4 linked regions of the Homo sapiens genome follow. The protein of the gene in region 1 interacts with the protein of each later gene in a pairwise test. Each region holds a gene or a part of one and is shown on either strand. Other genes may lie near its edges.

Region 1 (7,845 bases):
GTACCCGGGCCAGACAAAGTTCTACACCAAGGACAACTAAAGCTACCAGCTCCATTCCCTACAAACAGACACACGGCAGCTGCTCGCGGGGGCCCCTGGCCACCCCTCAGGGTTCACACGCACCGTGCTGGCCCCCCAGGCCACAAGTGACGGTGGCTTTGAAGCAAACATCATGTGCTTCGCAGACAAAACCCCTCCGCCAACCCAGACCTCGCTTTCCTTCTCTACTCCCCCACCCACCCGTGTCCCTTTCAGTCCAGACACCAGAGGAAGGATGTGTGAAAGGAGCCAGGTAGTCAGCCAAGCCCACCCACAGCCCCCAACCACAGCACCTACCTCCAATGACCTCCACGAACTCTGGGCCGGCCATCGCCAGGAAGGGCACCTGAGCCTCCGTGGCCACCGCCTTGGCCAGCAGCGTCTTCCCACAGCCGGGGGGGCCGAGCAGCAGTGCGCCCTTTGGGACCTTGGCGCCAAGCTGGAGGAAGCGTTCTGGGCTCTGGACGGCAGCAGACAATGCAACACTAACTACTTGGGGATTCCGTTTTTTTGTTTTTTAGAGGTAAGGTCTCTCTGGGTCACGCAGGCTGGAGTGCAGTGGGTGCCATGATAGCTCACTGCAGCCTCAAACTCCTGGGTTCAAGCCACCCTCTCACCTCAGCCTCTCGAGTAGCTGGGAATATACAGGCATGTGGCACCACGCCCAGCTACTTTTAAAAACTTCTTGCAGGCCAGGTGCGGTGGCTCACACCTGGAATTCCAACATTTTGGGAGGCTGAGGCAGGCGCGTAGCTTGAGATCAGGAGTTTGAGACCAGCCTGGCCAACATGGAAAAACCCCGTCTCTACTAAAAATACAAAAATTAGCCGTGCATGGTGGTGGGCGCCTGTGATCCCTGCTACTCGGGAGGCTGAGGCAGGAGAATCACTTGAACTGGGGAGGTGGAGGTTGTAGTGAGCCGAGATTGTGCCACTGCACTCCAGCCTGAGTGACAAAGTGAGACTCTGTCTCGAAAAAAAAAATTAATTAAATAAAAAAATGTTTTGCAGAGACAGGGTCTCACTGTTGCCCAGGCTGATCTCCTACTCCTGGGCTCAGTCACTCCCCTGCCTCAGCGCCCCGAGGTGCCAGGACTACAGGCGTGACCCACTGTACCAGGCCTGCAGAGGGAACACATGTCAGCCCCTCGAGGTGCCAGGACTACAGGTGCGACCCACCGTACCAGGCCCGCGGAGGAAACGTGTAAGTGACGCACGTGATAGGCAGCTCATGCACTGCCACCAACTGGCTAAGGTGTTTATGTGGTTCTGGAAAAAGCACAGAGCTTTGCAAGGGATGAAGGGCCCAGGACGGCTAACGGCACAGTAGGCATGGGTCTTGGCAGCCTCTGCTTGGCTGAACCATGTGCACGAGGCTTGTGCTGCTGGTTGAACAGGCACCAGCACCTGCTTGGTGTCCCCATGGGACATGGTAGAGGTCACCGCCAACCCACGACACGTCATCGATGGAATTCCAGGTCCCGCAGGAGCCCTTCTGGGAGAGGAGGACGGCCGGCCTCTGCTCACACCTCCCTCCCGGCCCACGCTGCTTTCACCTTCAGATAATCCACAAACTCGCGGACTTCCAGTTTGGCTTCGTGCATTCCTGCCACGTCTTTGAAGCTGACTCCTTTCCCCATCTTCCCATCCACAATGGTGAAACGAGCCATTTTAAGCTGATTCTGTGCAGAAAGAACAAAGTGCAAGGAGCTGGGCGAAGTCAGGAAATCAGCAGCACGATGCCAGCGCTCAGCCCACGCACCTGAGCCGCCCCAACCCCACGTCTCCATCCTAGGATCCCAAGGCTTCACTCATGTCAGGCTGACGAGGCTCACAGTCAGTCTTCAAGCACAGAAGGGAAATGTTTCGTCATTAATTAGTAAGAAACTTATCTAGCAATTTGCTTTAAAAAAAATTACTCAGCCAGGCATGGTGGCTCACGCCTGTAATCCTAGCACTTTGGGAGGCCGAGATGGGCGGATCACGAGGTCAAGAGATCGAGACCACCCTGGCTAACACGGTGAAACCTGTCTCTACCAAAAATACAAAAAAATTAGCTGGGTGTGGTGGCAGGCACCTGTAGTCACAGCTACTTGGAAGGCTGAAGCAGGAGAATCGCTTGAACCCAGGAGGCAGAGGTTGCAGTGAGCTGAGATCGCACCACTGCACTCCAGCCTGGGCAACAGAGCCAGACTCTGTCACACACACACACACACAAAAAAGAAAGGCCAGGTGCAGTGGCTCATGCCTATAATCCCAGCACTTTGGGAGGCTGAGGCGGGAGGATCACCTGAGGTCGGGAGTTCGAGACCAGCCTGAACAACATGGAGAAACCCCGTCTCTACCAAAAATACAAAATTAGCTGGACGTGGTGGCGCGTGCCTGTAATCCCAGCTACTCGGGAAGCTGAGGCAGGAGAATTGCTTGAATGCGGGAGGTGCAAGTTGCGGTGAGCTGAGATCGCACGGCTGCACTCCAGCCTGGGCAAGAAGGGCGAAACTCCGTCTCAAAAAAAAAGAAAAGAAAAACGCAGATTCAACTGCCCTGTAATCTCACAAGGCTCAGGCACCCCAGAGTTAGGGGTGAGAGGCCCTCAGGCAACATTGGTTACTACACGCCTTACAGCCGGACCATGGGAAAGGAAGGTGAGCTGCTGTCTAATTGTGGCTTCAGGCTACTCTCTGCAACAGGTTTTCCCTGTGTATTCATCGTATAGCTTATGGGAAAAGTATTCAGCAAACACAAACCAGAAAGAGTTCAGAGAGCTCTGATTTACAGAACTTACAAAAGCACTGAATCCACCTTCCCTTCCAGTCATCCCGGCCAGACGGAAAACATACCACAGGATGGCCAGGCCCACTGCCGTCATCCCCACAGAGTACAGGGCACTGCCGGAAGAAAGAGAGGCAGGCACAGGCTCAGACGGTGTCACGTGACAGACGCAGGCTTCCAAATCAGAACCACTGCTGGCAATGTTTCCAAGATGAGACGAGGAATCCCTACGTCTGGGACCGATGCGCAGATTAAAATGGTTGTGGAAATGGGTTCTCTCGTCTCATTCTCGCTGACTGTGCTTTTTCATGAAAGCTTCCCAAATGGTCAGACTGAGTGTGCAGATGCCGGAGATCTAGCCAGCCTTGTGACAATAACAACGTTCAGGTTTTTCTATTTTCAGTATATTTTGTTTTCAAATGTAAGCGATCAGCTTCAATCAGGCAGGCAAGATCAGCCTAAGAGTAAAAAGCAAATCTCAGGCCGGGCGCGGTGGCTCACGCCTGTAATCCTAGCACTTTGGGAGGCCGTGGCGGGTGAATCACAAGGTCAGGAGTTTGAGACCAGCCTGGCCAACATGGTAAAACCCCATATCTACTAAAAAAATACAAAAATTAGCTGGACATGGTGGCATGCGTCTGCAATCCCAGCTACTTGGGAGGCTGAGGCAGGAGAAATGCTTGAACCTAGGAGGTGAAGGCTGCAGTGAGTCAAGATCGTGCCACTGAACTCCAGCCTGAGCTACAGAGCAAGACTCCATCTCAAAAAGAAAAGAAAAATGTAAGAATAAACCCTGTGTCTACTAAAAATACAAAAAAACTTAGCTGGATGTGGTGGTGTGCATCTGTAGTCCCAGCTACTCAGGAGGCTGAGGTGGGAGAATCACTGATCCTGGGAGGTCGAGGCTGCAGTAAGCTGAGATTGCACCACTGCACTCCAGCCTGGGCGACAGAGTGAGACCCTGACTCCAAAAAAAAAAAAAAAAAAAAGCAAATCCCAGGACTTTTGCCCTCATCCTGAGGAGGGGCTGCCCTGGGCCTGCCCCAACCCTCCATCTTCTGTACATCATCAGCCTACAAAGACACGAGAATGGGCCTGCCCCAACCCTCCATCTTCTGTTCTGTACATCATCGGCCTACGAAGACATGAGAATGGGCCTGCCCCAAACCTCCATCTTCTTCTTTTTTTTTTTTTTTTGTTTGAGATGGAGTCTGGCTCTGTCACCCAGGCCAGACTGCAGTGGTGCTATCTTGGCTCACTGTAAGCTCCGCCTCCCGGGTTCACGCCATCCTCCTGCCTCAGCCTCCCGAGTAGCTGGGACTACAGGCACCCGCCACCGCACCCGGCTAATTTTTTTTGTATTTTTAGTAGAGACGGGGTTTCGTCGTGTTAGCCAGGATGGTCTCGACCTCCTGACCTCGTGATCTGCCCGCCTCGGCCTCCCAAAGTGCTGGAATTACAGGCGTGAGCCACCGCGCCCGGCCCAAACCTCCACCTTCTGTCCATCATCGGCCTACGAAGACACGAGAATGGGCCTGCCCCAACCCTCCATCTTCTGTACATCACTGGCCTACAAAGACATGAGACACACAGCCTCAGAGCAGTGATCTTCCAGGTGTTGCTGGGTTATAGAATTAAAGGTGCATCTTTTTTTTTTTTCTGTAGAGATGGGGTTCTCCATGCTGCCCAGACTGGTCTCGAACTTGTGGGCTCAAGAGATCCTCCCTGCCTCAGCCTTCCAAAGTGCTGGGATTACAGGCATAGCCACTGCACCCGGCTAGAGGTACATTTTGATCAAGGGAGTACTTGCCAGTCACTGGCATTCTACATCTTCAGAGATTACAAGTCAACAATAAACCTCTGTTTCAGTACCCGCTGGCCCCTCATTTGTCCTACTAAGGAACCTGTCAGGGTCCATGGTCCATACGTGCTGACAGCTCCCACCTGGTCTGTTTCCCTCTCAACACTGAAATGAGAATTTCACCTTCCTGTGTCTACCCTTTTCCCGTTCCATTTTCCTGTCTGTAGAAGAGAGCAAGCCCAGGACATTATCACGGTCCTCCTTGACTTTCTTTCTTACTGCTAGGCTGATCTTGCCTTGCTAACTGAAAGTGATCGCTTACTTTTGAAAACAAAATATACTGAAAATAGAAAAAGCTGAACGTTGTTATTGTCACAAGGCTGGCCAGATCACTAGGTATCTCCGGCATCTGCACACTCACTCTGACCATTTGGGAAGCTTTCATCAAAGAGCACAGTCAGTGAAAATTATACAAGAATGTGAATTCAGAAGCGCCACACAACTAAAGAAAGTGACTAAACAAACTCCAACGGACTTGCACACGGTTGGCCTCCACAGCCACAGGTTTCATCTCTGCAGGTTTAACCAAGCACAGAATGAATGTATCTGGGGAAAAACGTGCATCTATACTCAACATGCACAGACACATTTTTGTCATTATTCCCTAAAGTATAACAACGATTGAAATAGTATTTACAGGGTATTGGGTATTATTATCAACCTACAGATGATTTAAAGCATATCAGAGAATGTTCTTAGGTTACACACAAAGATTTCGGCATTTTACACCAGGGGCTGAGACTTCGCCATCCTACGTCGGGGGCTGAGACTTCGCCATCCTACGTCGGGGGCTGAGACTTCGCCATCCTACGTCGGGGGCTGAGACTTCGGCATCCTACGTCGGGGGCTGAGACTTCGGCATCCTACGTCGGGGGCTGAGACTTCGGCATCCTACGTCGGGGGCTGAGACTTCGCCATCCTACGTCGGGGGCTGAGACTTCGGCATCTTACGTCGGGGGCTGAGACTTCGGCATCTACATCAGGGGCTTAGACTTCAGCATCCTACACCAGGGGCTTAGGCATCCTCAGGTGCTGGTATCCTTGGGAAGTCCGAGAACCAGCCCCCATGGATACCCAGGGATAACTATATTTCCAAATCTCCTGGCATTGTATCATTCACTTCTATATTTATTTAACCCTCCCACTAAAAAGTCTAGTTAACTATAGGCAAAGACAGTTTGAGATTTTTGATTGCAATCTGTTTCTCAGATTACAAAGCCAAGTTAGGTTTAGTTCAAGCATCAACAAATACATCCAACATACTTTCCAAAGAATCCTGTTCGCTTGTAGGAAACTGGGATCCTGTCCTTGGCCTCGATATTCAGCTCATCTTCAGCTGCTCGAAGCTTCTCTTCAAACTTGTCAATATTTGCAACCTGCATTCGGTACATCAAGGCTAGCCGCTGGGGGGCAGAAAGGAGAGGGGACCATGAGAAACGCAGGGACAGACGAGCAACCCTACAGTCAACAGAGAGCCCGCCTGGAACTCATGGTAATGACAACCTCAGCATTGTGAAGAGGACACCATTCAGAAACTAGAGGTGATTCCTAACGTACGACGGTTCCACTTACGGTCTTTCCATTTTACAATGGTGTAAAAGCAATATGCACACTAAGCTCCTTGACCTACGATGGGGCTACCTCCCAGTGAGCCCCTGGGAAGCTGAAAATATCCTAATTCAAGGAACATCTGTACTTCCAAGTCTAAAAAATTTGTTTCCTCAACCACAATTTGAGAAATAAAATTTCAACAGATAGACTTTCTATTTTCCACTCATAGGAAAACTAAGAAATGGAGGGATGTCTGCAAGTTAGCTCACAGCCCCACGTCTGATGTGTGCCTCAGACTCAGCTACACCTGCAGACACAGCAGGAGCCCCCCAGAGGCCGGCGAGGCTGCAGCACGGGACTGAGGATGGCAAAATCAAGACTACGGCCAAAAACAGATGTTTTAGGAAACTGCGGCCACAGAGGGTTCATGTTTAACCACAAAACCTGAGACTGTTCATCCCTCACACCAGGACACCAACAGGTCCGTCTCCCTGGCACACGATTCTCCAAACGCAGCGTTTTCCTAAGTAAACTCCGCATGTTTAGCTCAGATTTCAGCATGACTGGACGGCAACACCCCAAAGGGAGGACACAGACGGACTTGCGGGACTCTCTTTGAGGTTAACTGGAAACTCCAGCAGAGGACAGGGATGAGGGGTGGGGATGGCACCTGCTGCTCCCTCACTCACACCCCAAACTGCTAAGACAGAATTCTGAGCATTTTCTCTTTAAGGCAGCTGTTTTATCAGGTGACTCGTCTAGAGCTGAGCATAGTGTTGTAGGTTAAAATAACCTTCCAGACTGAAATAATCAGGCATCCACCAGAGGATTTACGTGAATGAGCACCGTCTTCTGCACTTAGCCATGGTGTATTTTAAGAACAAGGTTTCCTGTTTTTAAAAATAGCAAGACAGCGCCAGGCGTGGTGGCTGACGCCTGTGATCTGGCACTTTGGAAGGCCAAGGTGTAAGGATCACTTGAGGCCAGGAGTTCAAGACCAGCCTGGGCAATATAGTGAGACCTCATCTCTCCAAAAAAACAAAAAATTTAAAAATTAGCCAAGTGTGGTGGTGCGCGCCTGCCATCCCAGCTACAGGGGAGGCTGAGGTGGGTAGATCACCTGAGCCCAGGAGATCAAGGCTGCAGTGAGCCGACATCACACACACCCCTGCATCTCAGCCTGGATGAGACAGAGGGAGACTCTGTCTCCAAAAAAAAAAAAAAAAAGCAAAAGAAAAGGAAAAAGCATTCTGAATCCTGAGTAACCCAGCAAAGGGGCAGAAGCTCTGGTGGAGGCCACGGTCATTTCCAGACCCGGGGGTGGGCCACACCAACCCCAGACCACTTTCCTAATCACTGGTCCACACATTACCCTGGGTTAAATTGCTCCAAGCACATGTTCTGACGCACTCTTGGAATCTAAAGTTACCAGATCTGGCTGGGCACGATGGCTCACGCCTGTAATCCCAGCACTTTGGGAGGTCAAGGTGGGCAGATCACCTGAGGTCAGGAGTTCGAGACCAGCCTTGCCCAACATGGAGAAACCCCATCTCTACTAGAACTACAAAAATTAGCCAGGCGTTGTGGTGCACGCCTGTAATCCCAGCTACCCGGGAGGCTGAG
Region 2 (7,845 bases), on another chromosome or scaffold:
AATTTTTGTTTTGTTTTGTTTTGATATTGAGTGTTTGCTCTTGTTGCCCAGGCTGGAGTGCAGTGGCACAATCTTGGCTCACTGCAACCTCTGCCTCCCAGGTTCAAGCAATTCTCCTGCCTCTGCCTCTCAAGTAGCTGGGATTACAGGCATGCACCACCATACCTGGCTACATTTTTTGTATTTTTAGTAGAGACAGGGTTTCACCATGTTGGCCAGGCTGGTCTTGAACTCCCGACCTCAGGTGATCTGCCCACCTTGGCCTCCCAAACTGCTGGGATTATAGGCATGAGCCACCATGCTTGGCCAGCAATGGTAATTAATTACCACAATTATCTATGTTGATGCCTCTCAAGCTAAAGTTCCACATGGAGGCACTGGGGAACTTTGAAAAATACTGATGTCCAGGTCCTACCCTCAGAAATCGGGGTGTAATTGACCTGGGGTGTGGCCTGGGCATTGGGATTTTTTAGAATGACAGTCCTACAAGATCTGGCTCTCTGCTTCTCTTTTCTTTCTTTGTTTTTTTTGTTTGTTTGTTTGTTTGTTTTGAGACAGTCTTGCTCTGTTGCCCAGGCTGGAGTGCAGTGGTGCGATCATACAGTCACTACAGTTTCCAACTCCTGGGCTCAAGTGACCCTTCCACTCCAGCTTCCCAAGTAGCTGAGACTACAGGTGTGCACCACCAGGTACAGCTAATTTTTGTACTTTTTTTTTTTTTTAAGAAGTGGTTTCACCATGTTGCCCAGACTGGTCTTGAACTCCTGGGTTCAAGTGATCTTCCCACCTCAGCCTCCCAAAGTGCTGGGATTACAGGTGTGAGCCACCACGCCTGGCCACTGTTCTATTTCTTACCTTATCTCCAACTACTCTCCACCTTGGTCACTCTCTCTAGCCACGCAGGCATGCTCTTGCCTCAGCCCATCACCCCCTGACTTCCTCCCCAGTGTGGCTGTTTCCCGTTCCTGTTTCCACAGCTGGGAAGCCCTGAGTTCCATCTGGCCACCACATCCCCACACTGGCTGCTGGTCTCCAGGGCTCCAGCTGGCACTTCCTGTTGCCCAATGGTGGGTGGCCTGTCAACACCAGTGGAAGGAGCTGTCGCTCTCCTGCCTGTTCCATCACCCATTGCTCAGTGTGCCAGGCCTCAGCAAACCAACACACCCTCCCATTAACTGCAAAGGGCTCTCTGACCCAGACCTGGGAAGGTGGCATCCAGGCCCAGCCCAGTCCGATCCATCTGTGTGGCATCCCCCAGGCCCACATTCCTTCCAAGAGGCTCAGTTTCCTCTCTGTAAAACAGGAATAAGAATACTGACCTCACAGGACTATTGTTGGAATTAAGTGAGATAACATAGATCATCTTGTTACTTGAAACCAAAGGAATGATTCTCTAATGGTGGAGTATAACATGCAATGGTGAACATGATTGGAGGAGGCATTCTGAAACAGCAAGATCTATGTATAAGGCTCACCCTATGGGTGCATATCCAATTATAAATCTGGGTCCCCTGGGAACTGTTCCTGGTCTGCTACTCCACTGTGGTGAGCAGGAGGTGGTCCCTTAGCACTGCCCTGAGCCGCCCCAACCTCAAAGCCCTTATCTTAAGTGATGACGACCCTGACATCCTGCAGATGAGGAAACTGAGGTTCAGAAAGGGAAAATGATTCTCCAAGGCCACCTAGCAAGTGTGGGTGAGGGTTGGGTGAGGCTTCAAAGAAGCCCGCTTCCTTCTTCTTCTTTTTTTTTTTTTGAGACGGAGTTTCGTTCTTTTGCCCAGGCTGGAGTGCAATTGTGAAACCTCAGCTCACTGCAACCTCCACCTCCTGGGTTCAAGCGATTCTCCTGCCTCAGCCTCCTGAGTAGCTGGGATTACAGGCATGCGCCACCATGCCCCGCTAATTTTTTTGTAGTTTTAGTAGAGACAGGGTTTCACCATGGTGGCCAGGCTGGTCTCGAACCCCTGACCTCAGATGATCCACCCGCCTCGGCCTCCCAAGAAGCCGATTTCCTTCTAAGCCTGGAGGATGGAGCATGACTGAGTCTGTGAGGGAGGAACCTTCCAGAGCCAACCCAGAGGAGAGTCCTGGTGTGGGCAGCCCAGGGCCCAGGGCATCATGCTCTCTAGCTGGAAGCAGAGGCAGTCTTGGTTTCCACCCAAAGTTCCCTCCATCATGTGGTTTGCAGCGTCAGCCAGGCTCTGGGTGAGGAGGAAGGGCATCCCACTCACAGCCCGCAGCCTCTGTCCTCTTTTGCATGAGAGGAAACAGCCACCACCAGAGAGGGTGCAGAGAGGCAGAAGAAAGTATCTCTGCCACCACTTAGGGCAGAGACCTTTCACAATCCAGCTCGTGCCTTCCCTTCCTACCAGTCACCTTGCACAATGCTCTGGGCCAGAAAACTGTCTTCCAAACCCCCTTCCACACCTTTGCCCATGCCGTACCTCCCACCTTGAGTGCCGTTTGTCCTCCTGACATGTCTCAAATCCTCACCCACCCTTCAAAGCCCAAAGCAAGGCCCTCCTTCTCCATCCCAGGGGCTGCCCTAGTTCTGTGTAGATGTCAGGAGCAGCCAGGAAAAGCATGTGGGTTCCAGGGGACTGGAGCACAAAGTGGGTCATCAAGAAGCAGATCTTGTTTTTTATCAAGAATAAAATTGAATTCAGAACACCAAATCGACCCAGAACCCTGCAGCCAGCAAATCCTGGCAGTGACCATCTGCAGGCATCGCAAAAGCAAAGCAAGCATGACCACAAACCTCTGCAATCTTCTAACACCTGAGCAGCCGGCCACGTCCTGTGGAATGGGCACAGATGAACGAAGTTCTTGGTCCCCAGAGGCCCACGTACCACAAAATATGCACCGAGCATGTGGAAAAGGGCATGCTAGCAAACCACAAATTTGGCCTAGAAACACCAACTCATTCTTGAAAGCAGGAATTGCTTAGTTTTCTTTTTAAATATTTTCTTTTTAATGACAAAGGTACTCTGTATTGACTTGCAGAAAATTAGATGGGGGATGGAGAGAATCCTACTTCCAAATCCATAGACACCAGTGTTAACATGTAGGGAAGCATCCTTTCATCCTACACAAATTAAAGTAGAAGCAAGAACAAACTCTCTAGAATTCAGGGCAGAGGGCAATAGAGTTCGACAGACCTAGGTGGGAGTCCCTGCTCTACCCTGCACAGGTGACCCTCGTCTGGGCCTAGACCTGCCGTGCCTTAGGTCCCATCACAGAGTCAGGAAGACACTGACAATGCGTTTGGGGGCATGTGGACTGAATGGCAGCATGCCTGGCATGGAACAGGCACTCAGCAAATGGCAGCATTGCTGCTCCTCAGGGGATGATGTAAGTAGCTGGGATTCAGGGAAAAATTCTTCATGGGACTTGAAATAAATGTCCTCTTTTTCATTTTTAATTGTTTGATTTAATTTTTGAATAATTAATACATTCATATGGTTCAAAAATCAAACAGTATAAAAACATCAATCCTGAAAACGTTCACAGCCGCTCAGCCTCATCCCTCATCCATCTCCTTTCTCTCATTCTCCCAACAGGCAACCACTTTAATTAGCTCCCTGTGCATCCGTCCACAGATTTTTGTTGTTAATACTACAAGCCTGCGCCAGTATAAATGCTTATTTCCCCACTTTTCACAACGGGTTGCCGACCAGGTGCACTGCCAGGCTCTCTGCTTTTTACAGGGAACACCAGGTCTTAAAGAGCTTTCCCAATCAGGAAAGGGAGAGCCTCCGTCCTCACTGCTTCTGACAGATGCAGCCAGGCAGGTGCCGGGAAGGTACTTGGTGGCAGCAAAGGCAGGATGGCCAGGGCCTCTCTCTCCCACCTCCTGCACTGTCTGCAAGCTCTGAGTGCACCAGGGCCACTCCTCAGCCACTGGCCTCCTTGGCCCTCAAAGCCACAGCAGTTTGCTGGGCTGCAAGGCCTTCCACAAAGTCAGTGCAGGCTCTGGTTTCCAGCAGGGCCCCATCCACAGGCCCTGACCCTTCCAGGCCATTCTGGGGTCCCTCCTTCCTGTGTGAAAAAGCTCCTGCCCAACCAGAGGACTATGGGGGATCCCAAAGTGACTGCTAGTACCCATGGCTGGAGAACTGGCCCCACTCTTTCACCCAGAAATGCCTCCTTCCCTGGAAAATAGCCATTAGCCTCCTCTGCCCAAAGAAATAATCCCCAAGTGAAAAACCTTTATAGTCAAAGATCTACCCATGGTGTCACTGTCCAGAATAATAAATAATTGGCAGTAACCTAAATGTTCAGCAGTGGAGGACTGGGCAAAAAAAATCACAGCATGGTCACCAAATTCACAAGCTAGAGAACTGTGCAGCCATGAACAGTGGTGTTGCTGAAAATGAGGAACCCATGTCCACACCCACAGGTGTTCCCGATGGAGTGAGTTACGCTAAAAAAAGGGGAGGGTGGCAAAGTGTGAACAAACCTAGCGCTACTGAACCATACACCACAAAAATGGTTAAGATGGTACATTTTATGTGTATTTCGCTACAATTTAAAATAAAATTTAAAATACTAGAAAAAAAAAGGAGGGAGGGCCGTGCATGGTGGCTCACGCCTGTAATCCCAGCACTCTGGAAGCCAAGGCAGGAGGATTGCTTGAGCCCAAGAGTTTGAGACCAGCCTGGGCAACACAGGGAGACCTCATCTCTGCAAAAATAAAAAATTTGTAAAAGAAAGGGAAAATACAAAATTATGTACACAATATGCTTGCACCTATGTAAGGCAATCTTATGCAAACACAGCATAATATTAGCAGTTGTGTGATGAGACTAAAGGTGCTTCTTCTTTTCCTATTTTTCTCCATTTCCCCACTTTCCTTTTAGGATCTTATATTAGTTGATTTTGTTTCTTTAGAAAGTGTGTGTGTGTATGTGTGTGTGTGTGTGTGTGTGTGTGTATATATATATATATATCTCTCTTTAAATGCCCAGGATGGAACAGGTGCCCAGCAAATGTCAGGCTCTCCTGATGCCCCTGGGCCATGGTAGACAGGTCTGGGGGTAGGGACAGGCAGCTTTATGACAGATCAGAGTAGGGCCCCTCAGTCCCCTTCTCTGTAGCCTCATAAATGGGCACCTCAGCATCTCAGAACTGGGAAGGGAAAAGGCACCAGTGGCTGAGTGCCACATAGGGAAGGGGCAGACCAGCCCAGCTGGTCCCACTGTGTGAAGCTGGTGAGTCACTGCCCCACTCGGCAGCGGTGCTGTCACCTGTTAAATGGGCTTGGGGAGGCTCAGCTCCTCCCAGTGTGGCACAGGGGTTTCTAGATAGAGCCAGAGCCCAGCCTCAAAGGAGAGATACACCCACATGTCAAGGGGAAAGTTCAGGCCTATTGTCCCCATACCCCCTTGGTGGTTCCCACCCAAAGGGTGGGTGACAGTCACTGCAGTGCATGTGACCCAGCCTCCCCAGGTCCTTACTTTTCCTTTTAACTACCCTAAAAGGAATAGGATGTGGATCTCAATAGAATCTGGTCCAGAACTAGATTTTCCCTCTTAAAACAATATCTAATGACATCTTTGCAAAGGCCATTGGATAGACATACAGGTTGCGGGGGATGGGGGACCTGGGAGAGGATGGCACAGTTGAGATACTGCTCCTCTCAGAGCACTCCTTGCCTGACCCAGTTATTCCTCCAGCCCCGGCACTGAACTATGGCTTCCTTCAGGTCAAGACAGTTTCATTCATCTGATTAGATGTTGCAGGGTGAAGAAGCTCAGGGGTCCAGCGTGGACCACCTAGTAGACAGCCCTACTCACCAAATATTTGCAGAATATAACAAAAGTGAAATGTAGTGCTGGGCGCGGCGGCTCACGCCTGTAATCCCAGCACTTTGGAAGGCTGAGGCGGGTGGATCATCTGAGGTCAGGAGTTCGAGACCAGCCAGGCCAACATGGTGAAATCTCATCTGTACTAAAAATACAAAAATTAGACAGACGTGGCGGCGCACGTCTGTAATCCCAGCTACTCGGGAGGCTGAGACAGGAGAATCACCTGACCCCAGGAGGCGGAGGTTGCAGTGAGCTGAGATTGTGCCACTGCCCTCCAGCCTGGGTGACAGAGTAAGATTCTTTCTCAAAAAAAAAAAAAAGTGAAATGAAGTAAAAAATGGGTTCAGGAAGGGAGATGGACCATGGAGACATTCACTGTCCATTCATTTATTCTATGAACACGTCCTCAGCCAGTACCCCACTTGTCAGCCCTGTGCAGAGGATACAGACAGACATTTCTTGCAATAATTTGGCCACCTGCTGGGAGTGGAGCCACGACAAACTGGGGGCAGGGGGAGGACCCTTCCTTCTCTGGGCTTCCCAGCGCCTTAGACTCAGTGCTAGGCCAGTGCCCTCTCCGCTCAGACAGCTGGTATTCTCAGATTCAACCTTGTCTCACTGACAGGTCCCACTCTGAGGCTCATTTACAAACTTCCTGCCAAGGTGTGATGCTCTTTATCATCTGTGTGTATCACAGAAATCACATTATCCCTTCCCTCCCTCTGTGGCTGGTCCGCCCTGCCTCACTCCTACAGCAGCGTGCATCTGAACACTCGGCTGCAGCTAAAATCAGGCTATAAATAAATACTGTGTGGCCACACTGACAAAATTGCAAAAACAGGCCGACTGAGGGACAGGACTGTGTCTGCTCCCATGCTGAGTGTCCCCACTACTTCTGTGCCACTACAGCTGCTTTTCAGACTGTTTCTGTCTCCTTCCTTGCAATCAGGCTGCTAGCTGCCTGTGAAACGTCCTTTCGTAGTCCAGGTCCATCAGCATTTATCCATCGCCAACTGTATATCAGGTACTGTGCAGACTGCCACTAATTGCTACATCTATAGGCTAAAAGACCCCATGACCAAGCTCATTAAAATTGTGGGTGAAATTAGAGTTCATAGGACCTGAGTAAAAGCTAGGGGACATCTCCTAGGAGTGTAGTATATGAGCTTTAAGGAAAGCTCTTAGGGAAATCATCTTTGGCTCCTGAGAAACCACTTTTGCTTCCTCCCTTACTGTGAGCTAAAGCCAGAAACAGCAGGGCTGGCTCCCCTCCTCCGCCCCGTGTTCTGTATGGGTGAGGTTGCCCAATAACTGAGGGGCTGTGATATCAAACATGATCTTTCCAGTTTAGCCAAAGTAGGGTCCCTCCACTCTGTCAGCTCTGTCACCCAGGCTAGAGTACAGTGGCACAATCTCAGCTCACTGCAACCTCTGCCTCTTGGGTTCAAGCTGTTCTCCTGCCTCAGCCTCCCAAGTAGCTGGGATTACAGGAGCATGCCATCACGCCTGGCTAATTTTTGTATTTTTAGTAGAGACAGGGTTTCACCATGTTGGCCAGGCTGGTCTTGAACTCCTGACCTCAAGTGATCCATCCACCTTGGCCTCCCAGAGTGCTGGGATTACAGGCGTGAACCACTGCACCCCGCCTAAAAACCAGTCATTTCTAAACAGTGTGCTGGCAGGCTGAAGGGTTTAATGACAGTGCCTTGGGCTGGGGTGGGGGAAGGCCCAGACATGGGCCAAGCTGGCTGGGCTGTTCCTAATATAACACCTGTGGCCAGAGTAGTGTGCCTTTTCTGTTTTACAGATTTGTCTACAAATGAAGCTTCAGAATATTGTTCTAGCCACCTTGTCTGATTTTCTTACCCCTCTGGGAGATAAGAGGGGTTACCTCTTATCTTACCCCGAAGCCAAAAGATCCAGTGATATGTCAGATAGACAGAGGGATCCTGCAACAACACAAGTGCTAAAGCCAGCCTGCCAGGGGTTTAATCCCAGCAGTGTGACCTTGCGCAAGTCTCTTAATATCTCCGTGCCT
Region 3 (7,845 bases), on another chromosome or scaffold:
GTGCTAAGTGTGAGCCACCTGGCCCAGCCACTGCACCTGATCTTCAATTCTCCCACTGATTTTCTTAAGCATATTAGGAAAAGTAAGATTGAAAAGAAAATTTGTGCAATAAAAATGGTCTCGTCTATAATTCCAGCACTTTGGGAGGCCGAGGCGGGAGGATCGCTTGAACCCAGGAGTTTTAAGACCAGCCTGGGCAACACCACAAGACTCCATCTCAAATAAAAACAGGTAAAAAAAAAAAAAAGAAAAAGAAAAAGAAAGAAAGAAAGATAAATAAATTTTAAAAACGGTCTCAGGGTTCACTCTAACAATTCTTTTGCTTATTACTGGGAAAAGTCTTGGAGGTCCTAGAAAAAGAATTTGGCTTGGGAAGGTAAGAGGAGAGCAGTGGATGATCTGGTCTGGGAGTAGCTGACTAGATTCCAGCCCTTTGCTGATTTTCTTCCTTCTACTCAGATAAGCAAGACCCTGAGGGGCAGCAAGTACCAGTGGTTTCAGTCCCCTGTCACCAGGCATCCTGCAGCAGGCACAGGACGGAAGTACATGTCCTCACTCCCACCTCCCCAAACACATCCTGCCTGGCTGGGAGGGATACTGTATTTAAAAACAGATGACTCTTTGGAAACTCACACATTTTAAGTCCCGTAAATCACACATGCTGGGTAAAGTAATTACACTTTTGTAGCACTTCCCCTCTGAGCACAAAGGAAATTCTGCTACTTCTGTAATTAGATAGCACTTTCTGTGTACACTTTCTCCCAGGGGGGGCCTCCACTGTCTATCCTATAGGTGGGCGTAAGAGGAATTTTCACAAAACAGGATCCTGCGGATTCAAGAAAAAAAAAAATTGGGTAGTCTTTAGGATTTCTCTTAGAACAACATTGGCCACTGCCAGCCTATCTACCCTGGTGACATGAGAATCTGGGAAAATCAAGAGGAACGTCACAAAAAAATCAACTCATGAGAAATAAAAGTTAATTAAAAGTAAAGTTGTCCTATAACTTATTTGCAGAGGTTGGTGAGCCAGACCTCATTTTGGAGATTCTCAGATGTCTCCTACCTTTGCAAAACCCTAAAGGCTGACAGAATGGAACTGGCTAAGCATTCCCTTTGCATTTTAAATTTGTGTAACAATACTGTATTACAACCTGGAATGTGAATCCATCTTCTCGGTGTGACTGGCATTTATCACTGCCATTTCCTTTTTCTCTTTAGCATTTACACAATATGCACCGTCACCATAATAGGTGCAGTAGAGTTAAAACCTAAGAGAAATACAAATGCAAGTTGTTTTCTTTTTAAGTTCCTGGACTACTTTGAGCTGACACTTAGCTGGGCTGAAAAAGGCAGCAAACTTTTAAAGTATAAATTGAATAAAATGAAAATATGGCCAGGCATGGTGGCTCATGCCTGTAATCCCAGCACTTTGGCAGGCCGAGGCGGGTGGATCACCTGAGGTCAAGAGTTTGAGACCAACCTGACCAATATGGTGAAACCCCTGTCTCTACTAAAAATACAAAAATTAGCCAGGTGTGGTGGCGTGTGCCTGTAGTCCCAGCTACTTGGGAGGCTGAGGCAGCAGAATTGCTTGAACCCAGGCAGTGGAGGTTGCAGTGAGATGGCGCCACTGCACTCCAGGCTGAGTGACAGCGCAAGACTCCGTCTCAAAGAAAAAAAAAAAAGAAAATGAAAATATAACCCACAGATTAGATGTCTTTGGGCTGCTGGCCAAAGGCTCATCCTACTCTTCCTTTTCCCCAAAAAAGTCAAAAAAGATAAAAGCAACTTAGAAATTTTTTCCTGTAAAAAAACTCACGCCTCTCCAGATTTTATGGTAGCTTGATCTTTCCTTTTAGGTGCAGGGTTGGCAAATGGAGAGTTGGAGAAGTAAAAGCCTGGGAATTAATGGCAAGTTTGGGAGGTTTATAAACAGGTTCCTGAGTTTTGAGCAAAGCAAAAAAAAAAGCATATGAGAAAGACCATATATCAGATTTTTCTAAGCTCCCCCTCAGGCTTTCCAATGGCTAAGTATACCAAACCCTTTAAAAACAGGCAGATTATATGTAATACATTTTTATGTTCCTAAATTAATTTTTAAGTTTCCATTTTTCTTGATTATTTTCAATTCTCTCCCCTTCCCAAACACTTTTTAACATGACTCTAAATTTTCACTAAATTTTGTATCTCTTTCCTTGCTAACCCTCACAACGTTTCCTAGAAAGCAGGAATTCCATTTTCTGGGCACTCACTCCCAGTATGCACGCTTTCAATTATCAGCTCTATGTTCTTGAATTGTTCTGAAAATCGTATTTCAAGATCAGACCTCTCCTCTGCACCCCAGACTCAGTAACATCTTCATCTCCTAGGTACCTTCTTTTCTTACCCTTTCCACATCTCTATTTTCTATTCCTACAAATACAACCGTCACTTAGCTAGCCACCCGAAGGAGAAACCCAAAAGGCTGCTAGGCTGTCTCCTTGCCTTCTCTCCCGCACATCTGACAGTTATCTAGGCCCTGAACACCTGGCATCTCTGCCTCAGTTGCCACTGCCAGGCTGCTGCCTCACTTTGAGACCAGGACTCTTGCAGCAGAAACCTCACTGCAAGAATGGTTCTCAACAACTTTTCCAAAATTCGCCACATCCCCCTGCCCATTGGGACGTCCTAGATTGCTGCCTTCTGGGGCACATCCACCCTGGTGCCCCATCAGAGGACAAAGTCCAATTCCCTAATGCAGAGGCAGCTCTTCCACCCACTGTGGGCCAGTGCCCCCTCCCCAGTTTCATTCTTCCTTCCCCTTCTTCTCTCCTGCCATGCCTTGCTTGCTCTTCCCCAAAAGGGTCTTTTGAAGCCTCTGTGTGTTCATTCACAGAGCGATTTCCTTGCCTAGCCCATCTTTTCCCCACTGTCTGAACCCTTTTCTCATCAGTCAAAATCTTAACTGAGATTTAGCTCATACGTCATCTTTAAAGAACTGACTCTTTAAACTTCTTTAAAGCTTTCTGTGACACAGCTCCATCCCTTCCTTGCAGGTTTGGCTGTGCTCAACTCAACTACCTCTACTTTAACCTCGGGCGTGGTTATACCTGTTTGTTCATACAGGGGCATCACCATTAAACTGTGAGCAACTTTAAGACAGGAACTGCCTCTCTCAGATCTTGGCATCTCTAGAATCTGCACATGAAGACCCTGGCTCCATAGCTTTTCAGGGCTTCAGCCACTTCCCCATCAAAGCAGCACAATCATCATAATCCCTTCATCAGCTTGGCACATAGTAAATACTCAATAAAAGTTAGGAGATAATTATTTAATGAATAGATAAAAAGATTTCTGACAATTCTGCAGGCTAAAGATTTCAGTATTTCCTTTTTCCTGCTATCAGCAACACTGACAAGCCAAGCAGCTTTCTTCTGATACCACAGACATATCCCCTTTACTCAGCTTCATGTTTCAGATAATATCAAGGACCTCCCACCTCCACCGCCAAACATAGAAAATATAGTGCAATAAAATTGTTTACAATATTCTCCTGGTACACTTTAGGGATGTGAGTGTGAGGAGTTATCCCCATATGACAAATAAGCTCATCCCCACCAGGGGCATGGAACTGACTTGTTCATACCAACATAGCATCCATTTTAAATACCTGGTCCCAGATGGCCTCAAGCCCACTGAGCTATGCAGCCACTTCTGCACCAGCTTTTAAGGTTCATTCTCCTCATTCCTTCCTAAGTTTTTTTCTTTGACCAAAGCAAGCACTGTTCAAGAGGAACATTTGCATTCCCTTTCCCCTACCCCCAGGCAGACACTAAGGTGCCAAATGAAACTGAACACAAACATTCCAAAGTGGCTGTCACACAGAGCAGGCTTGTTTGGGAACACAGGGAGTCCATGCTCTTCCACCTAACCAAGGCTTCTGGAAGCCCTCGTCCAAAAGGTCAAATGGAATTCCACAGCAGAAACCAAATTCTAATGGTGAAAACCCAAATGCACCTTGGGACAAGCAGTCCCACACTGACAGTGGCTATCTGATGGACCAGGCAGGCTCACCTGTGCTCGCAAATGGAGGTTCCTAATGACAAAGGGATGGAAGTAATTTTCCAGCAGTGGCTATTTGATGGACCAGGCAGGCTCACCTGTGCTCGCAAATGGAGGTTCCTAATGACAAAGGGATGGAAGTAATTTTCCAGCCGATCCATCCACACCTTTTCTAATTCCCCAGTGCAGAGCACAGAAGGGATCCTCAATATTAAACGAGTGGCTGCTTCTTATTACCTGTACAAACTCATAATCACCAACCTCACCAATAAGGCTATTTCATATATATTTACAAAGAATTATATACGTGTATATATGTAAGTGTGGATGTGTGCAGAGGAGATTTACCTGGTGCTGGGGTAGGTGTTGAACATTGGGAATACTGTAAAATGGCATAGACCCATACAAAATAAATAGCTGAAAAAAATAATAACCAGGAGTTAAATGGACATAACAGAAAGTAACTTTTACTGAAATTCTAATGAAAAATCATCTCTATGGGATGGGACATTCAGGTGAGGGGGATCTTGCAAAAATGTAGGCTGAAAAACTTGAATCCTGGCTTAAAAGCAGCTCAGACTAGATCAAGAGAACAGAAGAGGAAGACCTAGGCTTCCTCTTAGCAAAGGGATCACAGTATACAGGTAGGTGAGGGCAATCCCGAACGCCATGTGCGCACTTGACTTTGTGGAGTACCAAGTAGCACTGAAGGATTCGGGGCATTGGAGGGCCCAGCAGTATGGTGTAAGGATGGACTCCAGAAGAGCATCAGAACAGGAGAGCAGCTGAAGATCACTAACACAATCAAGATAAGGGAATGAGTAAGAGAAATACTAATAGTACTAAGAAAGACTATGTCTGAGGAACAAGGCAGACCTGATTCTCACCGCTAGGCTTGTGAGCAAAACTAAATGTGACCAACCTCGGTTTTGTGAATATCACGATTCAAGGAAACCCTCAAAGCAAAAAGACATTTAATTCTTTTTGTTCACATGGTCATTTTCGAAAACTTAAACACCGAAAGGCATCAGAAAGTAAATAGCAATGATCTGTAATCCACCAATTAGATACAATTAATGTTTGGTTTTATGAATGAATATACATTTATTTGAGAACTGGCATCACATAGCATAAAACTTTAAAATCAGTTCTTTTCATTTAATATTACAACATGAGAATAAAAATATAGTCTTCAGAATGTCTGGAGCCACTGAAGCTCAAAGAGGTAAGGACAGGTTCTCCTCTCCAGCCTTTAGAGAGCACGGTGGCCCTGCCAACACCTTGACTTCAGGTTTCTAACCTCCAGAACACAGAGAATAGTATATAACCACATATGTATAATACATAATAAATATGAATTTATATATAATACATATTTTATAATCCATGTATTTTTCTCTTTAAAAACGGAGCCTTTAGTGGTTGCACAATATTCCCCTTCCAGAATTATACAATGATTTAGTTAGCAGTTTCCCATGTTAGATAGAGTGCCTCTGAATTGTCACTGTCATAAGTCACTGCAAAAATCATTCCTATATATAAATCTTTATGATACCGTTTTCTTAGGGTAAATTTCTAAAAATAAAGGTACTAAATCAAAGGGCCTGAACACATTTTGATAGTGTCACTCCTTTCTGAAAAGCTACACTAATTTACATCACCACTGCTCTGCACAAAAGTACCCACTTTATTGCCTTGTCACCAGCACTGAACACTTTTATCCTTAAAGCAAAAATTAACATGAACCTACGAAAATCATGTGAAACCATCTCCAGAAGAGAACTTCCACCCCTTCCAAACTACCCATCTGAAAACTAATGCCACTGGGAATGAAGAAGACTGCAGATGCACACAAGGGTTTATCAGGGAAATGTTTAAACCGCTACTGGAAAAATAACTCAAAAGTGCATGCCATATTGACAGGGGTCATGGAGCATCAGTTGTCACCAAATCCTATTCTACAACTGAAATATATGTTTATTGCATTGGATTGAACTTGGAATAACAGAGATCCCCAATCTTGGTTAAATTGTATAAAACCATTCTGTACTTTCCTGAAGTCACAATGTAGATTGACTTTAATGCTCAATGAAAATTTGAGGTTGCCACATCAAACTGACATTACCCTCTCTGCAGCAATTTTAAGAAATAATTTTCTTTACAACCCCAATATTTTGGCAAAATTAGCACTTTAAAAGAAGGAATGCAAAGTAAAGGTTTGTATTAACCTCAGAAGAACTGACTGTATGATTTCTGCACATCTTTTTGATCAATATTCCAACACTTCCACGTTTTTTGCTTTTTTAGTTTTATTATAAGTACAAGTCAATTCAAAGCAATTTAAGGAGAAATTAACACCAGTGCTTCAATATAATAAAAGGCCTTTTAAAGATGTTTTACAATCAGCCTGAAAAGTACTCAATGACATGGATAAAAGTAGAAATAAAAACCAAATCACATATTTAATCTAAATTTCTATTTTGAAAATTCAGTGACCAACAAATAAGTTACAAGCTATAAGTTAGCTTTATAGCTATAGCTATAAGTTATAAGTTAGCTTATAGCTATAGCTATAAGTTATAAGTTAGCTTATAGCTATAGCTATAAGTTATAAGTTAGCTTATAGCTATAGCTATAAGTTATAAGTTAGCTTATAGCTATAGCTATAAGTTATAAGTTAGCTTATAGCTATAGCTATAAGTTATAAGTTAGCTTATAGCTATAGCTATAAGTTATAAGTTAGCTTATAGCTATAGCTATAAGTTATAAGCTATAAGACAGAAAAGGTCTTGATATATTTGAAAATACTTTAAACTCATCAATTATAACTGATTAGGTAAGACAAATAATTATGGATCTATTATATATCAATTTTTATAAAGTTTGATTGCACAATTAGAGAAATTCTAGGAATCATTTTATCAATTGTAAAATATAAGAAATGACATGATACTCTAAACATATATAAACAAACCTTAAAAATCTCAGTGAGATTTTGACAACTGGTTAGTCTTTACAGGACAACTTGCTTAGGGAACACACATGTATAATACATTGTACGTGTATTACACATGTATTTAATGTAATAATACATTAAAAATCGGAAAGTTAAATGTATCATCTCTCTTACACAACTGGCTAGCCAAATCCTAAATTATTTTTCCTCAAAGTTTTCAATGCTATCCAAAGTAGAAGTATTAATACATGTTCTGCCAAAGTTCTCAAAAACTTCCAACCCTAAAAAGCTGCAAAAATACTCCTAGATCCTGAACTGTTCATTCTACACAATTAGAACCAAAGAGGCATTTCAGCACAATTATTTCAGGGTAAGCATTAGAAACTCTCAAAAGAAGCTAAAATACACTGATTGATAGAAGGAATTCGTTTCGAAACTAGAAACACAGAAAAAAACAAACTTGGGTTCTACAATGTGGAGAAAGCCCAAACCACCCTCATGATCTGTGAAATAAACTATTTTCCCTTAATGATGATTGGACTCATTTTTCCATGTCAGTTCAATGGCTACCAGAAATTACAACGAAACACATTTTTCCTCTCGTCATTACGTGTATATATCTATGTTGTATGTGTGTGTTCTGTTTACTGGAGTCCACCGCCAAGGTTTTTAAATGTGCTTAAGAGCAAGTTGCTGATACAATGGGTGGGCAGGGAAAGGGTCAGTGCAGTGGTTTTGTGTAATGCCGGGCACATTAATGGCACTCACCTAATACTCTATTTATTTTACCTGTGGCTTTCAGGGTTAGAAAGAAAAAAACAAAAAAGAGGTTAAGAGTTTTTCAAGAA
Region 4 (7,845 bases), on another chromosome or scaffold:
ACCCTTTTGTGCATGAAAGTATAGTAGAATGAATAAGCAGAAAAGCTCTAGAAAGAGAATGCCTGGGTTCTAAATCCTAGTTCTCCCACTTACTAGATGTTATTATATTTCATCAATTTAAGGATTCATGTTTTTCACATTTTGACATCTCAAAGTGATTGTCTTCTTGACATACATGGCATAGTCATAATTTAACTCAGTGTTTTCTCTCATAGTGTTAAGATAAAATAATTGTGTATCTCATAATGAATGAGATAAACAATAAGTTAAAATGTTGACCTTGGATATGTTATGTAATTATATGTTACAATTTAATTAATACAATAATCACTTAGAGACTTACAATAAAACATTAAATGTATTACATGTAAAGACATTTACAACTGTATCGGATATTTAGTAAGTGCTCGATACTATATATTTGTTATTGCTTGAAAATTAAAGATTGGTCATACCAAATGCCCACAAAAAAAAAGAAAATAGCTTTACAAAATAGAAAATCTTATTAATAAGAGAACTTTGCATAACATGAGTTAACAATTCCTAATTTGAATTGTTATGAAATTATTACTTTATGAAGTTATTTAATTACACTTATATTCAAAAAGATGATGTCTAGAATATTTTAAGCTCTATAATTTGTTGAAAGTGTATTTAATTAAAACAATTTACATTTCAATAATCCTATCTATGATAACTCTAATTTTCCAATAATAATGTATACCAGAGAACAAAGCATTACATCTATATATTGTAATAATAATTTATTTTGCATAATTGATGAATGAAAATATATGACATCTCTAACACACATCACCACTATATGTTGCAGTGAGTGCAGTCACTGAAAAACGAAACATCGGGGTAAATTTTGAAGGCTTTTGTTTACCACGTTGAGAACGAATACATAGAACTAATAGAGTTTGTTAAAGAGGAGAGTAGTCATATTTGTTTATGCGAAAGACTACTCAATTATCACTGTGGTTGATGCAGAAGAGTTACAGTGATTGAGAGAGAGAGAGAGAGAGAGAGACAGAGACAGAGAAACCGTCTTATGGCAGGGGAGCCAATGAGAAAACAATTCCATCATCCAAGGCAGATAAAAATGAGCAGCATTTGGAATAGACAGGGATAGGGCCAGATTAGAGATTAACATTTATATGAATTAATGCCAATTAAACGTTGGAGAAGAAGAGTTCCCCAAGAGAAAGATAAATTTTTGGTGTCTAGCCTGGTGAGAAATTGATGATATCATTAACTAAGAGTAGGTGAAGGATCAAATTAAATGAAGAATATAATTATTCTTGTAAATAATCTGAGCTCTGTGGATTGCTGGTGTGACCTTGGGCAGGTGACTTGTTCTCTCCATGCCTTAATATCTCAATGTATTTTTAAAAAACTTAGAACTGCCCACATGACAAGCTTGTCAAGATGCTTAAATTGGAGTATTCATTTAAGGCAGTGGTTCCCAAATTGGCCTGTATTTTGGAATCACTGGGAGCTCCCTGTCTCCAGAGATTGTGGTTTAATTGGCCTAGGGTATGGCCTGGAATTTGGAATTTTCAAAAGATCCTCAAGTAACTTTAACATGCAGGCAAGTTAAGAAACTTCTGATATAAGGAACACAAGCCAAGATATGGCATTATGTTAGGAAGAAAACAGATTATAGCCATCATCAGAGGTAGGGATTGCAGGGTGCAACCATGAGATCGAGGATAGAAACTGGGGACATCCAGATTCCAAAGTGGGTCCAGGAATACAAGCCAGTGAAGGAGGATAACGAATAAGGAGGAATGAGGAAAAGTAGAGAAAAGCAGAGTCATAAAAGTCCAAAGAAACATTTTCCAGATAATAGTCCACAATCTTAAAAATAGTAGAAAGGTGCTGTGGCATGGAGACTGTAAAGAAATCTAGTGGATTTGGAAATCAGTAGGCTACTGGTGATCTCAGCCAAGAGCATTTTCAACAGAGGGGTGAAAGCAAGAACTAGACTGATAACATTCAGTTCAGGAATGTAGAGGAAGTAAAGAATTAAACAGAAAATATTCTTTCAGCAAGTCAGACAAATAAACGACAGGATACTGTGGTGTGGTTTTAGCCAGGGGCAGTATCCTAAAAAAAGTGATTTGAATTAAATTGGAGGAGAGAACAATGAGGTTAATATTCCAGGGAAAGAACATAGTGGATAAGAGGTAATGAGTCAGGTTCAGGAGGCAGGTTTGCTAGGGCTGTGTCTGGTAGTCAGTTGATGAAGGAAGAAAATGGAAAATTAGATTTGATATGAGCATCATATAATATTAGAGCAGAAGGAAGTACTATAAATTTAGAAATCTGCATTTTACTCATTAGAAAAAAAAATATCTATCTTAAGCCTAGGTAGTTATAATACTTACCCATGACTATTCAAGGGTATAGCGAAGGCTCGTGAATAGAGTAGGGTGACCATATAATTTATTGCCCACACATGGATATTTTTGAGAGTGTTAAAATGCTAAACTGAACAGGAAGCTAGGACAACAGTTATAAAACCTGGACATATGCTCATCTTGCTTATGAGGAAACAGAAATGTGCTTGGAGGAGCAGTGAAGGCAAAATTGGTTTTTACATCCCTTTATGTATTATCATGGTAATACAGAATACTGTATTCTTAGCCATGTTGTACTTGCAGCCAGCACTGGGCCTCTGGGTCTTTGTGTTTCACCTTCTCCCAATCTAGGAGAGTATTCTTTATACATTAGACTCACAATAAATTCTCTCATCATTTCTCTATTCATCAGCTCTGTAATCTATTTAAAAATTTTAAAGGTTTTGCCAGCATTCGTACCCTTCACTTATAAATGCTCACTTTTATTTTAAGCAAGAAAGAGCCATCTGACTGCTATTCATAGCAGACAGCATAACCTATGTCCCCATATGTGCCTACAGCCAAATACTGTGATTGTTGACATCTCAATGATCATCATTTTTTTCCCCAAAGCTTTAGTGTTCCCACTGAAAGCAGTGCTATCTAGAGGCCAACCTTTCAGACAAAATAAAAAGTGAAATAACTGTTCTTTTGCCCAAAGACTTCAGACAAACACTCAACCATTCTAAAGGCTTCAAAATGCCATAAAAATTGGCCACAACCATTTGATCTTACACTTTTAGTGCAAGTCAATTTTGTATCAAGAACTGCAATACAGAGTATTCAGTCTGTTATTTTTATTACAGATACTAAAGTATTCCTCTAACACCATAGTTATGGTTAAGAAAATATATTCTGTCAGGGACTGCACCAGTTCAGGGGGTTACAGGCATGATGATAAATCAGTGACAAAGAGTTGTGATTTCAAGTAATCTCAAACTTAAGCAGCTATAGTAAACAGAATGATATCACTATGGTTAGATTCCCACATTTTATTTAAGTGCAGCCACCTTTTTTTTTGGTAAATGACAGCATTGTCCATCACTATCTGTAATCCCCAGCATAAAGGAGATGCAGACATCTGAAACCGCTCAGTTTCAGAGATGGTCCAGTGAGTCATATATCAGACGATGCTCTGATTTGTGTCTTCTTCGAGAATTTGGAATTTAATGGGGTTATATTCAGAGTGGGTTTTTGTTTGGGTTTTTTTTTTTTTTCTGGCTTTGGGTTTTTAGTTATATAAAAGACAATAACAAAGTATTTTACATGGTTTTTATAAGAACTAATCATAGTCAGTGTTTACAATTATTGTCTTCTATAGATATCAACACACTTTATATCTTATATAATTTCTATTAAATGCATACACACACACACACACAGAGAGAGAGAGAGAAATTTGTATTTATTTCATTGTATGGAGGCTGTGAGATGAAAACTTTTTCTGTGATAGGCCCTTTTCTCTCATCACCTGTTTCTCATCTATACATGACTTGTTTCTCTTAGGGGCCGTGGGGGTGCCATTCCTCCTCCCCCACCACCTGGACGAGGTGTTCTCACCCCTCGGGGAAGCACTGTAACCCGTGGAGCGCTTCCAGTGCCACCTGTAGCAAGAGGTGTCCCTACCCCTCGAGCCCGGGGGGCACCAACAGTGCCAGGATACAGGGCACCTCCTCCTCCAGCCCATGAAGCTTATGAAGAATATGTAAGTACTCTTAAGAAATAAGTTGTAAGGATGAGTTAAATTGATTAGTTAACAAGCTACGTCTCAAACTGTTCATATACCGTGAATATAGCAGGTAATGTTTGTTGCAGAAACGAATGTCATTTACAACAGAATTTAAGCAGTGCATTTAAATGAGAGCATTTTGAGAAAAGGTTTCATTTTACAGGTGTCATCACTGTTAGTGCTAGTTAAAGAGCTTGTATTTTAAGAACCAAACTTATCCTTAGGAAGTTTGATCAGATTTCAAATGAGAAATAATTATAAACAAAAGGTGAATTGCCATGTATTCAGAGATTTCTGGAACTTGACAAAGATTAGCATAAAACTCAGAAATATTTAACAAATATAATATGATTATATTATAAACTTTGGGAGTATTGTAAGACCGTGTGGCTGGTCTTTCATTTATATATCCTGACTCTTTCTTTCACCATATTAAAGATGTGGATTGGCATAAAAAATTCAAAAAAATATACAATGAATAGACAAAATGCAGTGTTTCCAAGCATCCCCCTCCCTTCCTATCTACTGTATCTTTTGGTCATCTTATGTATCTAAACATCTTTTAACCTTTAGTTCTGATTGTCAGTATTCCACTAATTACATTGTGGTCCTTGTGTCCATTTCTCCGACTAGATTGTGAAATATGTAAAAAGGGAAAATTTACTAATAGTGTAACAATAGGAAGTCTTCTGTAAATGTTTTTTTTTTTATTATTATACTTTAAGTTTTAGGGTACATGTGCACAACGTGCAGGTTTGTTACATATGTTTACATATGCCATGTTGGTGTGCTGCACCCATTAACTCATCATTTACATTAGGTATATCTCCTAATGCTATCCCTCCCCGCTCCCCTCACCCCACAACAGGCCCCAGTGTGTGATGTTCCCCTTCCTGTGTCCATGTGTTCCCATTGTTCAATTCCCACCTATGAGTGAGAACATGCGGTGTTTGGTTTTTTGTCTTTGCGATAGTTTGCTGAGAATGATGGTTTCCAGCTTCATCCATGTCCCTACAAAGGACATGAACTCATCATTTTTTATGGCTGCATAGTATTCCATGGTGTATATGTGCCACGTTTTCTTAATCCAGTCTATCATTGTTGGACATTTGGGTTGGTTCCAAGTCTTTGCTATTGTGAATAGTGTCGCAATAAACATACGTGTGCATGTGTCTTTATAGCAGCATACTTTATAACCCTTTGGGTATATACCCAGTAATGGGATGGCTGGGTCAAATGGTATTTCTAGTTCTAGATCCCTGAGGAATGGCCACACCAACTTCCACAATGGTTGAACTAGTTTACAGTCGCACCAACAGTGTAAAAGTGTTCCTACTTCTCCACATCCTCTCCAGCACCTGTTGTTTCCTGACTTTTTAATGATTGCCATTCTAACTGGTGTGAGATGGTATCTCATTGTGGTTTTGATTTGCGTTTCCTTGATGGCCAATGATGATGAGCATTTTTTCATGTGTCTTTTGGCTGCATAAATGTCTTCTTTTGAGAAGTGTCTGTTCATATCCTTTGCCCACTTGTTGATGGGGTTGTTTTTTTCTTGTAAATTTGTTGGAGTTCATTGTAGATTCTGGATATTAGCCCTTAGTCAGATGAGTAGGTTGTGAAAATTTTCTCCCATTCTGTCAGTTGCCTGTTCACTCTGATGGTAGTTTCTTTTGCTGTGCAGAAGCTCTTTAGTTTAATTAGGTCCCATTTGTCAATTTTGGCTTTTGTTGCCATTGCTTTTGGTGTTTTAGACATGAAGTCCTTGCCCATGCCTATGTCCTGAATGGTAATGCCTAGGTTTTCTTCTAGGGTTTTTATGGTATTAGGTCTAACATTTAAGTCTTTAATCCATCTCGAATTAATTTTTGTATAAGGTGTAAGGAAGGGATCCAGTTTCAGCTTTCTACATATGGCTAGCGAGTTTTCCCAGCACCATTTATTAAATAGGGAATCCTTTCCCCATTGCTTGTTTTTCTCAGGTTTGTCAAAGATCAGATAGTTGTAGATATGTGGCATTATTTCTTAGGACTCTGTTCTGTTCCATTGGTCTGTATCTCTGTTTTGGTACCAGTACCATGCTGTTTTGGTTACTGTAGCCTTGTAGTATAGTTTGAAGTCAGGTAGCATGATGCATCCAGCTTTGTTCTTTTGGCTTAGGATTGACTTGGCAATGCAGGCTCTTTTTTGGTTCCATATGAACTTTAAAGTAGTTTTTTCCAATTCTGTGAATAAAGTCATTGGTAGCTTGATGGGGATGGCATTGAATCTATAAATTACCTTGGACAGTATGGCCATTTTCATGATATTGAGTCTTCCTACCCATGAGCATGGAATGTTCTTCCATTTGTTTGTATCCTCTTTTATTTCATTGAGCAGTGGTTTGTAGTTCTCCTTGAAGAGGTCCTTCACATCCCTTGTAAGTTGGATTCCTAGGTATTTTATTCTCTTTGAAGCAATTGTGAATGGGAGTTCACTCATGATTTGGCTCTCTGTTTGTCTGTTATTGGTGTATACGAATGCTTGTGATTTTTGCACATTGATTTTGTATCTTGAGACTTTGCTGAAGTTGCTTATTAGCTTAAGGAGATTTTGGACTGAGACAATGGGGTTTTCTAGATATACAATCATGTCATCTGCAAACAGGGACAATTTGACTTCCTTTTTTCATGATTGAATACCCTTTATTTCCTTCTCCTTCCTGACTGCCCTGGCCAGAACTTCCAACACTATGTTGAATAGGAGTGGTGAGAGAGGGCATCCCTGTCTTGTGCCAGTTTTCAAAGGGAATACTTCCAGTTTTTGCCCATTCAGTATGATATTGGCTGTGGTTTTGTCATAGACAGGTCTTATTATTTTGAGATATATCCCATCAATACCTAATTTATTGAGAGTTTTTAGCGTAAAGTGTTGTTGAATTTTGTCACAGGCCTTTTCTGCAACTATTGAGATAATCATGTGGTTTTTGTCGTTGGTTCTGTTTATATGCTGGGTTATGTTTATTGATTTGCTTATGTTGAACCAGTCTTGCATCCCAAAAACAGTCCAGGACCAGACAGATTCACAGCCGAATTTTACCAGAGGTACAAGGAGGAGCTGGTACCATTCCTTCTGAAACTATTCCAGTCAGTAGAAAAAGAGGGAATCCTTCCTAACTCATTTTATGAGGCCAGCATCATCCTGATACCAAAGCCTGGCAGAGACACAACAAAAAAAGAGAATTTTAGACCAATATCCCTGATGAACATCGATGCAAAAATCCTCAGTAAAATACTGGCAAATGGAATCCAGCAGCACATCAAAAAGCTTATCCACCATGGTCTTCTGTAAATATTAAATTTAACTGATGCAAGCCAGATCATTGTACTATGAAAATGATTTATTTTGCCTTTAACCTCTCCAGCATGTCCATCTCCTGATCTAGGTATTTGTTTCATTCAACTATCCATAAACATGCTGTCCTCTTCAATGTCTTATGTAAATTATTGCTCATTTAAATGTAAACTCTTCAAATATAGTTACTGTCACATACTGGGCACTCAAAACATATGGACTGGTTAATAATCAAAATTTAACTATAAAATAAAGTAAACATAGTTTATAGCTAATCCTAAGAGTATATTAATTTTTAGCATGTATTCCTTTTAGGAATAATGTTACTAAGTGTAAAAATCCACTTCTACTTGAACAGGTGAAATGTGTTCATCTAAG

Evidence for each region.
Region 2: the proteins of SPG7 (region 1) and PSTPIP1 interact in binary tests that used the Homo sapiens proteins (3 or more experiments, as listed by UniProt).
Region 3: the proteins of SPG7 (region 1) and RBPMS interact in binary tests that used the Homo sapiens proteins (3 or more experiments, as listed by UniProt).
Region 4: the proteins of SPG7 (region 1) and KHDRBS2 interact in binary tests that used the Homo sapiens proteins (3 or more experiments, as listed by UniProt).

The regions. Positions count from the first base shown.
Region 1 is NC_000016.10:89,524,558-89,532,402, reverse strand, and holds part of SPG7 (mitochondrial inner membrane m-AAA protease component paraplegin isoform 1 precursor), read right to left. Parts: intron 6,075-7,845; coding exon 5,935-6,074; intron 2,927-5,934; coding exon 2,824-2,926; intron 1,721-2,823; coding exon 1,595-1,720; intron 500-1,594; coding exon 337-499; intron 1-336. UniProt on the Homo sapiens protein: Catalytic component of the m-AAA protease, a protease that plays a key role in proteostasis of inner mitochondrial membrane proteins, and which is essential for axonal and neuron development.
Region 2 is NC_000015.10:76,997,565-77,005,409, reverse strand, and holds part of PSTPIP1 (proline-serine-threonine phosphatase-interacting protein 1), read right to left. Parts: intron 1-7,845. UniProt on the Homo sapiens protein: Involved in regulation of the actin cytoskeleton. May regulate WAS actin-bundling activity. Bridges the interaction between ABL1 and PTPN18 leading to ABL1 dephosphorylation.
Region 3 is NC_000008.11:30,387,365-30,395,209, reverse strand, and holds part of RBPMS (RNA-binding protein with multiple splicing), read right to left. Parts: intron 1-7,845.
Region 4 is NC_000006.12:61,890,900-61,898,744, reverse strand, and holds part of KHDRBS2 (KH domain-containing, RNA-binding, signal transduction-associated protein 2), read left to right. Parts: intron 1-3,911; coding exon 3,912-4,110; intron 4,111-7,845. UniProt on the Homo sapiens protein: RNA-binding protein that plays a role in the regulation of alternative splicing and influences mRNA splice site selection and exon inclusion. Binds both poly(A) and poly(U) homopolymers. Phosphorylation by PTK6 inhibits its RNA-binding ability.